2 linked regions of the Homo sapiens genome follow. The protein of the gene in region 1 purifies or fractionates together with the protein of each later gene. This does not show direct contact. Each region holds a gene or a part of one and is shown in the gene's direction. Other genes may lie near its edges.

Evidence for each region.
Region 2: the proteins of ITLN2 (region 1) and OPRPN purify together in Homo sapiens (affinity purification with mass spectrometry; one large-scale study listed by BioGRID and IntAct). This does not show direct contact.

What each region holds. Positions count from the first base shown.
Region 1 is NC_000001.11:160,944,384-160,948,573, reverse strand, and holds the end of ITLN2 (intelectin-2 precursor), read left to right. Parts: intron 1-541; coding exon 542-645; intron 646-3,281; coding exon 3,282-3,434; 3' UTR 3,435-3,549; downstream 3,550-4,190.
Region 2 is NC_000004.12:70,404,440-70,408,284, forward strand, and holds part of OPRPN (opiorphin prepropeptide isoform 1 precursor), read left to right. Parts: intron 1-3,845. UniProt on the Homo sapiens protein: Opiorphin is an endogenous inhibitor of neprilysin and aminopeptidase N. Inhibits the breakdown of substance P, Mca-BK2 and Met-enkephalin by neprilysin in vitro with IC(50) values of 29 uM, 33 uM and 33 uM respectively.

The sequences.
Region 1 (4,190 bases):
ACTTTTGTTATGAAGGATAACTTTAATTATCTTACAAAAGACAGTTTTCAGTATAATAAGAGCACAGAAGTTAAGTTGTGGATAAAAAAATCAAAGACATCACTGTTTGCCTTTGATATTTTGATGAAAGCAGGTGATGGTCAGGGAAACTAACCCATGGTAATTGGATGAGAAGTGTGTAAACAGCAATAGGCAGCCACATCTGATCATTGCTTATTCCTGCTGGGCCTTCTCAGATCTTTTTGGTAATCTTTTTGTAGAGTCTAGTTTCTCCTGTAAGCTGTAAGCAGACCTGGGTCCTTTTGTGAGTCCCAGCCTTTGTCCTCTTGCCCCCTATGAACAGAGGTTTCCTTGGGGACAAGTTTAGGACTGACGTGCACCAGCCACTGGCCATAAAGGTACTGGGCTGCACCCCTACAGCCTGGGGTGTTTGGCTGTAGCCTCAGCTTTTGGCTTAGGGAATCCCTGGACTGGCCAATGGGATGCTGCTTCTAGTTCATCCTTTGACTACTTGGCTGTTTCTTCACCTCTTCTTTTTCAGGGGAATTTGTTGCAGGATTCGTTCAGTTCCGGGTGTTTAATAACGAGAGAGCAGCCAACGCCCTTTGTGCTGGGATAAAAGTTACTGGCTGTAACACTGAGCATGTGAGTTTTTGGGGAGATCAATGGCCCACGTGTGGGGAAAAGAAAGAGAGATCAGATTGTTACTGTGTCTATGTAGAAAAGGAAGACATAAGAAACTCCATTTTAATCTGTACTAAGAAAAATTGTTTCTGCTTTGAGATGCTGTTAACCTGTAACTTTAGCCCCAACTCTGTGCTCACAGAAACATGTGCTGTAATGAATCAAAGTTTAATGGATTTAGGGCTGTGCAGGATGTGCCTTGTTAACAATATGTTTGCAGGCAGTATGCTTGGTAAAAGTCATCGCCATTCTCCATTCTTGATAAACCAGGGACACAATGCACTGCGGAAAGCCGCAGGGACCTCTGCCCAAGAAAGCCTGGGTATTGTCCAAGGTTTTCCCCCACTGAGACAGCCTGAGATATGGCCTCATGGGAGAGGAAAGACCTTACCATCCCCCAGCCTGACACCCGTAAAGGGTCTGTGCTGAGGAGGAGTAGTGAAAGAGGAAGGCTTCTTTGCAGTTGAGGTAAGAGGAAGGCTTCTGTCTCCTGCTCATCCCTGGGAATGGAATGTCTGGGTGTAAAGCTGACCACTCCCATTCATTCTATTCTGAGATAGGAGAAAACCGCCCTGTGGCTGGAGGCGAGATATGCTGGCAGCAATACTGCTCTGATACTCTTTGCTACACTGAGATGTTTGGGTAAAGAGAAACATAAATCTAGCCTATGTGCACATCCGGGCACAGTACCTTTCCTTGAACTTATTCATGATACAGATTCCTTTGCTCACATGTTTCCCTGCTGACCTTCTCCTTACCTGTTGCCCTGCTACACTCCCCTCACTAAGATAGTAAAAATAATGATCAATAAATACTGAGGGAACTCAGAGGCTGGCACCGGAGCAGGTCCTCCGTATACTGAGTGCTGGTCCCCTGGTCCCACTGTTCTTTCTCTATACTTTGTCTCTGTGTCTTATTTCTTTTCTCAGTCTCTCATCCCACCTGACGAGAAATACCCACAGATGTGGAGGGGCTGGCCCCCTTCACCATGTGTGTGCATGGGTATGCACATGTGTGTACCTGTGTGGGGTGTATCAATGTGTGTCTCTGTGGTTACTCGCTTACTCTCATTCTGTTTACTCTCATTACTCTCCTGATGATGTCTTATGAATATAATTTATTTTTTATTTCTTTTTTTTTCTTTGAAGAGTCCTTTTCTTTCTTTTTTTTTTTCTTTGAGACAGAGTCTCGCTCTGTCACCAAGGCTGGAGTGCAGTGGCGCGATCTCAGCTTACTGCAAGCTCCACCTCCCGGGTTCATGCCATTCTCCTGCCTCAGCCTCCCGAGTTGCTGGGACTACAGGGGCCCACCACCACGCCCCACTAATTTTTTTTGTATTTTTAGTAGAGACGGGGTTTCACTATGTTAGCCAGGATGGTCTTGATCTCCTGACCTCGTGATCCGCCCGTCTCGGCCTCCCAAAGTGCTGGGATTACTGGCGTGAGCCACCACGCCCAGCCTGAAGAGTCCATATTTTTAATAAAAATTAAGTGGTACAAAGTTTGGAGTAGTAGATGCCAGAAGTTGAGTATAATTTATTTGTCTTTTAAATCTTATGTATTTATTTATTTATTTTTTGAGAGGGAGTTTCACTCTTGTTGCCTGGGCTAGAGTGCAATGGCAGGATCTCTGCTCACTGCAACCTCTGCCTCCCGGGTTCAAGTGTTTCTCCTGCCTCAGCCTCCTGAGTAGCTGGGATTACAGGAATGCACTGCCACACCCGGCTAATTTTTTTGTATTTTTAGTAGAGATGGGTTTAGTAGAGATGGGTTTCTCCATGTTCTCAAACTCCTGACCTCAGGCAATCTGCCCACTTTGGCATCCCAAAGTGCTGGGATTACAGGCATGAGTCACCGTGCCCGGCTGAGTATAATTTATTTTAATGGAATTCAGTTTATCAAACTTTTCATTTATGGTTAGTACTTTTAATGTTTTCTTTAAGATGTACCTCCTTACACCGAGGTCGTGAAAATATTCTCCAATATTAATCTTAACTTTTAGAAGCTTTATATTTTTATTGTTTTTCCAGTCTTGTAGGAGACAGCACCACAGTTGTAGTGGTGGGAGATTGTATTTGAGGGACATCCTGTGCCTAGGGGTTGGAGGAAGAGAGCGTCAGAGCCATCAAGAACAAGGGCATTCACTTAGGGCCCCCTTCCCTCCCCAACTGACAGTCTGAACTCACGGTTCCATCTTCCCTGCCCCAGCTTTCAGCTTTTTCATTTTCCAGCTAAGATGAGGCAGCTATTCTCTCATGGAGGGACTCGCAGATTAGAATTCGGAGGATGACGACCACGTGGGCAGTGGGGGTGGACTAGAGTATATGTCTTTATGCCCTTTTCCTTGACAAGTTTCTCTACTGGCTCTGTGCTCCTCAGACTGTCCATTAGTGCGTGTTTGTGTATGTTCCTGCATGCATTACTACTTTAAAATACATGCATAGGGCCAGGTGTGGTAGCTCACACCTGTAATCCTAGCACTTTGGGAGGCCGAGGCAGGCGGATAACTTGAGGTCTGGAGTTCGAGACCAGCCTTGCGCTCACTGGTGTCAGCAGCAAATCAAATTCCTCACAGTGTTTCTTCTTTCTGTTTCCCAGCACTGCATCGGTGGAGGAGGGTTCTTCCCACAGGGCAAACCCCGTCAGTGTGGGGACTTCTCCGCCTTTGACTGGGATGGATATGGAACTCACGTTAAGAGCAGCTGCAGTCGGGAGATAACGGAGGCGGCTGTACTCTTGTTCTATAGATGAGACAGAGCTCTGCGGTGTCAGGGCGAGAACCCATCTTCCAACCCCGGCTATTTGGAGACGGAAAAACTGGAATTCTAACAAGGAGGAGAGGAGACTAAATCACATCAATTTGCAACTCTATGTTTCTTTGAATTCTTTTTATAAATTGGCTGATGTGTTGAGGGATATTTTAAAAGAATACCTATGGTTCTGGTGAATTCCACCTCACATATTCTGGGCTTGCACAGTGGCTAGGAAGAACCCATTGAATAAAAATAAATGTTCACTTCAGCAACACATATACTAAAATTGGAACAATACAGAGAAGATTAGCAAAAAGATATAAAAAAATTGAAAAATAAAAAGACATTCTGGGCCAGGGATGGTGGCTCATGCCTGTAATCCCAGCACTTTGGGAGGCCGAGGCAGGTGGATTGCCTGAGGTCAGGAGTTTGAGACCAGCTTGGGCAACATGGCAAAACTTCATCTTTACAAGAAGTACAAAAATTAGCTAGGAAGTAATGCGTGCCTGTAGTCCCAGCTCCTCAGGAGGCTGAGGTGGAAGGTTGGCTTGAGCCAGGGAGGCAGAGGTTGCAGTGAGCCAAGATCTCGCCATTGTACTCCACCCTGGGTGACAGAGCAAAACTTTACCCAAAAAAAAAAAAAAAAAAAGAAAAGAAAAGAAAAATAAAGACAAAGACATTCTGGGTTTGGAATTTCAAGTCTCATCTGTCCCAGAACACAAGTATGTTCCTGTTTTTAGGAGATCCCTGAACT
Region 2 (3,845 bases), on another chromosome or scaffold:
ATCCTTGACTCTATCACCTCCCAGATCCACTCCTTCAGCAAATATTGCCCACTCTGCCTTCAAAACATCATCTAAATCTTACCCTTTCTCACCACCCTCCTGCTACCATTCTAGGCCAAGCCATCATCACTTCCTACCTGTGGCAACAATAACTGATCTCTCTGCTTTCACTATTGTCCCTGCAGTTTATTCTCCACACAACAACCAGAAAGATGTTTTTCCAAAGTAAATATTGCCATATCATTCCTTTGTTCAAAAGCTTCTAATGGTTTTCCATAAGACTTAGAAGGCGGGGATACAAAGTCCTTACCCCTACCTACAAGACCCTGCTTTGTCCTCCCCGCACCTTAACTCCAATATATCTATGTAACAAAATTGCATTTATGCTCTTTAAATGTTTTACAAATAAATAATAATAAATTTAAAAATATCTGCCCTCATGGAACTCACACATTAAATCGTTTTTGATTATTTTAAACCATCAAATGTTAAAACTACAGAGAGAATATAATCAAATTTAAATATAGGTGGGCTGCATAATAATAATATTAAAGCTACCACTTATGGAGTGTTTAATATATGCCAAGAAGTATATTACAAAAGTATGCTGTTTAATCTCTCCAGAAATCCAGTGTGACAATTATTATTATTATCCTCTCTTAACAAATAAGTAAAATGAAACTCAAAATAGCCAATTCTCTATTCTGTTTCAAATAAGCTTATCATTTGTGAAGGTAATCCCCCCAAATGTAGACTCCTTAAGAAGGCATTTTCATCATTTGTCTAGGGTTATAATGTTCACTACCATTGGCCAGTGGAGGAGGGAAACTAGCTAGTGAAAAATTGTATTAAGAGAATAGGAAAAGATAAAAATAATAAGAATGGAGATCAGGGGTCAGCTATTTGCTGTAAGGTGTAATTTTTCACATGATTTCTCCCCACCTCTGCTTAGGGTCCAGAGAGCAGCTCATTGAAGATCACTTTGAACTTAATTTCCATGACACTGTACCATCTGGGTTTCCTCCTGTCTCTGATTTTCCTTCACTGGCTGCTCACCTTTCTCTTATTGATACCCAAGTTTCTGTCTTCAGCCATTTCTTCTTCATTACTTTCTTACTTATTGCTTTGACCCAACAGTGCTTTCCAAATCTATTTCTCCAGTTCTGAGATTTCAATCTGCATCTACAAACTTCCATGACTTTTCAAACTCAAAAGGATTAAAACTTAATTAATTTTTTTCCTCTTGACACCTATATCTTCATTAATGTTAGCAGCCATGACTTAAGATCTCAATTTCATTTGAGTCCACATTCATTTATTCAAAAACATTTACTAAGAACTTGGCCAGGCATGGTGGCTCACACCTGTAATCCCCGCATTTTGGGAGGCCAAGGCAGGTGGATTGCTTAAGCTCAGGAGTTCGAGACTAGCCTGGGCAACATAGCAAGACCCCATATCCACAAAAAATACAAAAAAAAAATAGCCAGGTATGGTGGTGCACTCCTGTGGTCACAGCTACTTGCGAGGCTGAGGTGGGAAGATCACCTGAGCCTGGGGGACAGAGGTTGAAGTGAGCTGAGGTCACACCACTGCACGCCAGCCTGGGTAGCAGAGCATGACCCCGTTTAAAAAAAAAATGTACTGAGAACCTCCAACGTGCCAGAAACTGGAGATAGAATGATAAACAATACAGAGACATTGTTTGAAGAAGTTAATAATTACTACACTATATAATAAGTGACTATAAGTATTATAATAGAAGTGCTAAAGCAACAAAAAGAACAAAGATACCTAACTTACTTCGAATTCCTCATACCTTTTATTATTCACAAAGGTGCCAGGCACTGACTAAGATACTAAAGACACAAAGCTAAAGAAGATACAACTTATTCCTTCAACAGCAGTAAAATAGCACATGGCCTAAAAGTGGAGAAAAATATCAAAACAAACAATTACTATCACTGTGAAAAAAAGTGATGAAGTTTGCTTTTGTCTCCAATAAAAGATTTACAAAAGTAAAATTTTGGCTGATTTTATATTGTATAAAGATATTTTCTGTACAATTCTTTTAATTATCATATCAAATTATTGGGGGAGAGGAGTGAAGCCACTTAAACATTTTGAAGGAAGAGCTTGCCAAGTGAATGGAAATTAGGGCAGGAGTGAAACATTCTCAGCTAGAGGAACTGCTTTTATGAAGGCACAGGGACTACCAAAAAGAGCTCGTTATGTTGAAAGAACTAGTACTAGTTCTACATGGCCAGAGTGAGGATAAAGAAGTGGCAAAAGATGAGATTGGATGGCGGTATAGGCTTTTGTTTGGTTGCAAAGAACAGGGTTCCACTCACAATATTTATTCTTGCATTTTTAGGGCTGCCTTAGTTTGCTGCACCAGTTCTAATTTATATTTATTCTTGCATTGACTTCCTTTTTCCTTAAAGGAAGGAAACATGCCTGGCCAGGTTCTCAATAAATGTTTTCTTCCTTCCTTAAATAAGAAAGTCAATGCAAGAATAAATATAAAGTAGAACTGGCACAGCAAAAGCAGGCAGCCCTAAAAACCGGTCTTTGCTTCTCATGGCAACCCTGCTTTTCTCTGTACTGTTCCCTCCCTGAGATGTGCTCTCTTTACTCACAGTCCCTGTGTCCTTATAGCTTAGTTTGCACGTGGCCCTTATTAATGCTCCAGCCTCTGTCTGGCTCCTCTCATCTCACAATATTCACATTTTAGTTCCTACTTCTAAGTAGGATATCTCAATATTTCCTATTTCAAGTTACAAAGAGAAAGAGAATTTTATTAACGTGGCTTATTTTTCTTCTTCTGGCCATAAGGCCTAAGATCCTGGATAGCCAGTGGTTTGGAAGTCCATGGAACAATAGCCCAGAAATAACCCAAATAAATGTGTTTATGTTTATGTTACAAGAATAAAAGGTGATGACTAAGACAGGACAGTCCCTGGAAAGGGAGAAAACATAGATATAAAATATACAGAGGAATTGATCATGTGACCATGACATCACTATGGCTCCCTCTGAAATGACTTGGAATTTTTGAGTTGTCACTGATCTTTGTAAGAGATTCAGTTAAGTTGTGTGATGGGGACAGTAACCAGATAAAAGGGAAATTGAGAAGTGGAGACAGAAAATCTAAACCAGCCTTCCTTACTATCTGGCTAGGAATGGAGAGAGATAAACTAATAAAGAAAGCTTCAAGGGTACCCTAGGTTAAGAATGAGATTCTTTAATACATGAGATATCAATCAATATTATAGACAGGAAGAATACAGCCAGGGATTAGAAAGAGGTTTATTTTACAAAAATAAAAGAGAAGAAAGACCCTAGGGACAGAGAAGATGTAGATATAAAACACAGGTGAAGAGACTGGTCTTAAACAGGAAGAGAGAACAGCAAGATATTTATGAGTTTTATAGGCATAGGGCAGGAAAGTGAAGAAGTTCTCACGTATCATGGCCTAAATTATGTGAATTAGAAGGCAAGATCATCTTCTGATGGGTGTAGAGGGGAGCAAGAAAAGTAGAAGTGAGGTATAGATGCTGAGAAGATAGCCTTTTGGGGAAAATGGGAGGAAATGATTTAGCAGTGCTGATGCACCAGACAAACACAGACACTATAGTTCTCTAGTGTTGCTACCATTAGAGATTGTGGCATTCTCCAGCAATGTTCATCACCATGGAAGTAGGACTAGGGAAGGTAGTTTGCATAGAGTTGATCCAAAAGTTTGATGTTTCTGAAGGCAATATGGCAGAGACACAGGAAGGAGTTGAATGTTGTAGGGGAATGATTAGAGTCTTGCACCTTCCTAAAGCTTTGTTTCAGGCAAACTG